Regions from separate parts of the Homo sapiens genome. Here region 1 is linked to region 2. The links come from fine-mapping of genetic effects on gene expression. A gene starts in region 2. The other region holds a variant in brackets. All regions are shown on one strand. Distances are from middle to middle. Region 1 has its middle 120 kb from the start of PWRN4. Region 2 holds the start of MAGEL2 (MAGE family member L2).

Region 1 (2,915 bases), 210 kb after region 2:
AGGGATCGTGGGCAGGCAGGCATGTATTTCTTGATGGAACTCTGAGGTTCTTACTTGCACCCTTTCCTGGGCTGCCTCCTTATATGTGGAGCTGGGGCACTAGTTGTTATCAGTGTGTGTGTGTTGGGGGTCAGGGTATCTGTGTGTATGTGTGGGGGGTGGTGTGTGTGTGTCTCTGTGTGTGTGTGTGTTTTTGCTGGATTGTTTCTCTGCTTAAGCCCCTAAGTAATTTTTTGTTTCTGTTTCATATTTTGGTTTATTATTTTTTGCTAATTCATTTGCTTGTTGGCTTTCTTTTAAGAAAACTACATAAAATTGAATACTCTAAGGGTAAACACAGTGAATTTTCACAAGGTGAACACGCTTGTGTATCCAACACCCAGATCCAGAAAAACAGCATCCCCAGCAGCCCAGAGGCCCCTTGTGTTCTCTCCTTGAAGTCCCTCCCCAGATCATGCCCTGTCCTGCCATAAAGTATATGGATGTGTGCCACTAGGAGAGACAGACTGTAGTAGCCAAAGACAAAGAGGAGTCAGTCGCTAGCTATTAAGTGAATACCCCAATCAAGCAAACCTGGAAGAGATATGGGATTCACAGAGGGTAAAAAATGCACCCAGATAACCATGGAAAGGAAGGGCAGCTGCTTTTCATAAGGGAGTTATTTAAAGGTGGGTGACAAGAAGATTCTGAAAGGCTGAATAAACAGCTCAGCAGAAAAAAAAAATCGGTATGTGCACCTGGTCATCTCCATTCCTCTGTGACCACCAGAGGCCCCCATTGGCTGGGACATGGACCTGGGGTGAGGGGAGGAGGGAGGGCCTGTGCTGGGGGCATCACACTCTAGTCTAGTCTAGTATAATCCAGGACGTGCTAATTGCATCTGTTGAGGAAGTCTGTGGCTTTCAGAGCCGCTTTCCTGCAGACTCCCTGCCCCTTCAGCAAAGCTCACACCAGGCATCCAGAAAAGAGTTGCCAAGGGGATCAGAGAAGGAGAGTACTCTCTCCCTCCACCACTCCCACCCCTTCAAATCTTGCTGGGCCCCTGCCCTTGGTGCAGGGAGGACTCAAATAGGTGAAGGTTTGCAGTCAGGAACAAACATGAAGCTGGGATTTCACAAGAAGTGAATGATGAGCTCAAAAGCGGGAGTATGACTTCATTCAAGGACAGCAGAGCCTTGAGAGTGCAGGAAAAAGAGGCAGAAAAGTCCTGGCTAGTGTTTTCTTGAAGCCCAGGAGCATGCAGAGATGTGGGCAGGAGAGGGTCTGCTGGCAGTCAAGGGTTGCTGTATGGTCAACTCAGATGAGCAGTGACACGTGTCCCTTAGATTCCACAACATGAAGGAAAGCAGAGGACTAGGCAAGAGTCTTTGGTTGGAGGGATAGGAACGGAAACCCCTTAAAAGCAGGCTCGAAAGTGAAGGCTCTGTGACCACAGGAAGAGACACTTTATCTCCCTTTACACCACGCTCTCTC[C/A]TGAGGAGGGTCAGAGGACACTGTTTCCAATTCAGACTTCTGTAAGAAACTTAACAAACCACAAATAAACATTCTCGTGCTCTATTCCTAACCCCCAGAAATCCTGAGGGAGCACGTGGTAACCTCTGACATATTTCAGTGACTCTGAAAGACATACCATCCCAGGCTCTATTCCTGCCCTGGCCAGGAGCCCAGAGAAGGCTTTGTGGATGGATAGGTCCAGCTGGATGCCTGAATAGGAGTGAGACCCTAGGGTGGACATTTCTATGTTTGGGTAGGACAGAGACATAAGAGAACTAATGATAATGTGACCCTAAAACTCATATTCATTAAATATTTGGTCAAGAGTTGTTTGGTGAGGGTGAACATAAAACTATTCTGTATTGGAAAAATATATGCATCTCCATTTTTACTGTGAAATATGGGGAATGTACTTCTCATGTTTTTCTGCATATACTCCTGATATATGATCTGAAAAGTCTGTAACATTTTAATTGTTTCAAAATATTTATTTCACAAATGTTCCAATGTTTATAACTTGTGACACCTCCAACTCCCTGCAGATAAAGGTAACAAAACTTTTTTCATTTATCTGTCATTTAAAATTTTCCTACAGTGCTTTATATAAGGAAGTCTTAAAGCATAAAAATACATTCACAATCATAAAAAACAATTAAAGGTTTGGAAAATAAAATGATTTACTTACTGTCCATTAACGTTGTTTACTTCCAGAATGTCAGCGTCCTGGTGACCCCGACCTCTGGCGGATGTCCTTGGTGTTCACAGGGCAGCAATGTGTGCTTGGGTACATTGTTGTAGAAGGACAACATGGAAATACAACTTGCCAGTGAACATGTTTAATCCTCTCCTATGTTGTGGTAGTTTTTCAAATAATTTGTCCATCTCCCCTGGCTTATGACTTTTTCTCTTACTGATGCATAGAGGTCTCTTATGTAATCTAGTTATAAAAGTTGCTGATATCTCCACCAAGATGGCTTTCCTTTCCTTTTCACTATTTTTTTACGCTACCTTTTGCTGATTTTATACCACTGGGATTTACTTTAGAAAGGATTTAAAATAGAGATTTAGCTGTCATTTTTTCAAATGTTAGCCAAATATTGCAACACAATATTTTCAATGTTTCAACTTTATCCTATTTAGAAGATTCCAAATTGCTTGAATAACTTTTGATGTACACTTGGATGAAACACAAATCTAATTTTTTATCTTATTATTCATATTTATAGAATCTTCAGAAGTAATCAACTAGAAAATCTGTAAATCAGAATCTTTGTAGGTACCAGCAGTCAAAAGTTCTTCCAATGAAACCACTTTTGGCAGATTTTTTCTCATAATGTAATAACAGCTAAATTCAGGATAAATTTTGAGGGAATATTTTTCTAATTGACCATTCTTGTCATTTAAAGTCTTTTTTTCTGATG
Region 2 (2,915 bases):
TGGCGGATCACCGGTGGGGCCTGGCGGATCAGCGGTGGGGCCTGTCGCACCGGTGGTGGGCCAGGGCGGATGGGTGGTGGGCCAGGGCGGATGGGCGGGGGCCCCTGGCGCATGGGCGGCGGCACCTGCCAGGTAACGGCTGGTGCCTGCCAGGTGACCTGCGTGGTCTGCCAAGTCAGGGGAGTGGCCTGCCAGCCTTGCTGCGTGGCCTGCCATCCTGGCGAGGTCGCCTGCCAGCCCGGGGGTGTGGCTAGCTGCGCTGGGGGTGCCTGCGGGCCCTGGGGAACCTGCGGAGGAGCCCTTATAACTTGAGACTGGATTTGCAGGATCAGAGGCTGAGCCTGCGGGGCCCAAGAAGCCATCGGCTGTGCAGGTGGGGCCATCGGCTGTGCAGGTGGGGCCGCCGGCTGTGCCATCGGTGCTCCTGAAGCTGGAGGCTGGGTCATCGGAGCTCTCGCACCTGGAGGATGAATCATCAGGACTCCTGGACCTGGAGGCTTGGCCATCGGTGCTCCTGAAGGCTGAGGCTGGGTCATCATGGCTGCTGGAGGCGGCTGGACCATCGGTGCTCCCGGAGCAGCAGGCTGGACCATCAGGACTCCCGGAGTCAGAGGCTGGGCCATCAGGACTCCCGGAGCTGGAGGCTGGGCCATCGGTGTACCCGGAGGGGGAGGATGAGCCATCGGTGTCCCCGGAGGTGGAGGATGAGCCATCGGTGTCCCCGGAGGGGGAGGATGAGCCATCGGTGTCCCCGGAGGGGGAGGATGAGCCATCGGGGTCCCCGGAGGAGGAGGATGCACCATCGGGGTCCCCGGAGGAGGAGGATGGGCCATCGGGGTCCCCGGAGGAGGAGGATGGGCCATTGGGGTCCCCGGAGGGGGAGGGTGGGACATTGGGGTCCCCGGAGGAGGAGGATGGGCCATGGGAGCTCCGGGAGCTGAAGGATGCACCATCAGGACTCCCGGGGTCGGAGGCTGGGCCATCGGGGCTCCCGGAGGTGGAGGATGCACCATCAGGACCCCGGGAGTCGGAGGCTTACCCATCGGGCCCCCCAGCGGGGGAGCCGGGACTATCGGGCCCCCTAGGGCAGGAGGCTGGGTCATCGGAACCACCGGGGCGGGCAGCTGGCCCTGTGGGGCCTCCCAGGCAGGCTGAGGTGCCTGCCAAGCGGCCAATGAAGCCTGCAAGTCAATTGGAGGTGGATCCCAAGGGACTGGCGGAGCCCGGGAGGAAGCGGGCGGGGCCCGCATCAGAACCGTAGGGCGGCTATAGACAGGCGGCTTCGGGGCCTCCGCCGGAGGACTCGAGTCACCCAGATTCTTACTTAGCTGCGACATGTCCCTTTGCTGACAGCTGGTGGGTCTTTTCCTCGGACAGCTGCTGGGCCTTTTCCTCCAGAGAGAAGAGAATGCCTACGTGGCTGTTCAGAGGCTCCCTCCCTGCTGAATGCTGAATAGGAAGTGAGTGCTGCTCGCTCCGCAGCTTTCCGCAGTAAGGAGGAGGGGGGAAGGGGGCTCAATCCCGCCCCTTCCCCGCCCCCGACCACCACAAGTGGATATTGCATAGGGGCGTCTACCGGAGTCCTGGCTGACACAGGATCCCTTCTCACTCTGTCCAGTCCCCAAATGCAGACCAGTCAGACTCCACATGGATGACTTTTCACAGGGGAGTGACAGGAACCCATCCATGTTTTAGAAAAATCACTGTACTGCAGTGTGGAGTGGGAGCAGACCACTGGAAACATGGAAGGTATCCAAGACGGCGGGGGGAGATGGTGTGGTCTGGGCTAAGATGTGAGGCGGAGAATGAAAAAAGCGCATTTACATAAGAGAGTTCCAGGAGTTATAGCAGACAGATACCTGTATTATAATTGAATAAAGGAGTCAAAGACATGGAAAAGGCACACAAGTCCCTGCCTGGAGAAAGTGGGAAGTTGCAGGGACTGTTACTCTCTTAGGGTCCCAGGAGAGGCACACGGGAAGAGAGGCTGATGAGTATTGGCAGACACAGGGCATTTGCGGTGCTGTGGGACTGCCAAGGAGAGATACCCTGTAGGCACTCCTGTATGATGTCTTGGGAGTCCTGCTTGGCTATTCCTCATGAAAATAGAGTTGTGGGAGGGAATGTGGTTGCACTGGGTCTTGAAGAACACAGGCATGTTAGAGACACATGGAGAAAAGGGACAGCAGCGAGTAGAGAGAGAGGAAAAGAAGTCACGGAACTGAGACATGCCACACATCAGTGGAAGACAGCATTTTTAGTATGGGAAAACTGCCTGTGGAATGGCTCGGATGCAGGAACAGAGTAGGTTTCTCAGTATTTTTCATCTGCAGAATGGGAAAGAAATTTAAAAAATGAAAACCAAATAACGCACCTGAAGATAACAAAATGGGTATATAAATAGATCAAAAATTGATATATTTGGATATATAGGAAAAACAGGCAAAGAATAAAAAAATTTCTGGGGAAACTTCTCGTGACAAAAATCAGTTTAAATATGAGACAAATCAAGTATTAACAGATAAAGCAGATGACAATAGTATTATTGGGCAATGCTATACAACTTTATGGTGAGAGGAAGTGATAATCTCAGTAATTGAAAAGCTTTCTGGAAATATACAAAGCACTAAATATCAAGGATGTTTCGTTTAAATAGGCTGTTGGCAGCCTACGGCAGGAGTCCAGAGTGACAAAACGTGCCACCAGGGGGCAGATGAGGACGATGAAGGGTACACCCCACTCCTTCCCAGGTACCCTTAGCCAGGGGTCCTCAAATTTGGTAATTTATGGACCCAAGAGAAGGTATGTACACACTCCCAATGTTATTATTGCCTTAAACAATAATAGAAGAATTTGGGGGTAAAGTTTCAGTGATTTTCTGGACACTTAAGGGATGTTGTTATTCCCAGGAAACT

The links. PIP is the estimated chance that this variant, and not a neighbour inherited with it, causes the effect.
Region 1: its variant is fine-mapped to the expression of MAGEL2 in lung (TOPMed, PIP above 0.99).

What each region holds. Positions count from the first base shown.
Region 1 is chr15:23,853,919-23,856,833 of GRCh38, forward strand. No RefSeq gene overlaps it. Among named protein-coding and RNA genes, the nearest start is that of PWRN4, 120 kb to the right of the region's middle. The variant C/A (reference allele first, on the strand shown) is at 1,474.
Region 2 is chr15:23,646,406-23,649,320 of GRCh38, forward strand. MAGEL2 (MAGE family member L2) reads right to left here and starts at 1,462. Exons shown (of 1, transcript NM_019066.5): 1 at 1-1,462. The coding sequence starts at 1,337. RefSeq lists an enhancer at 1-749.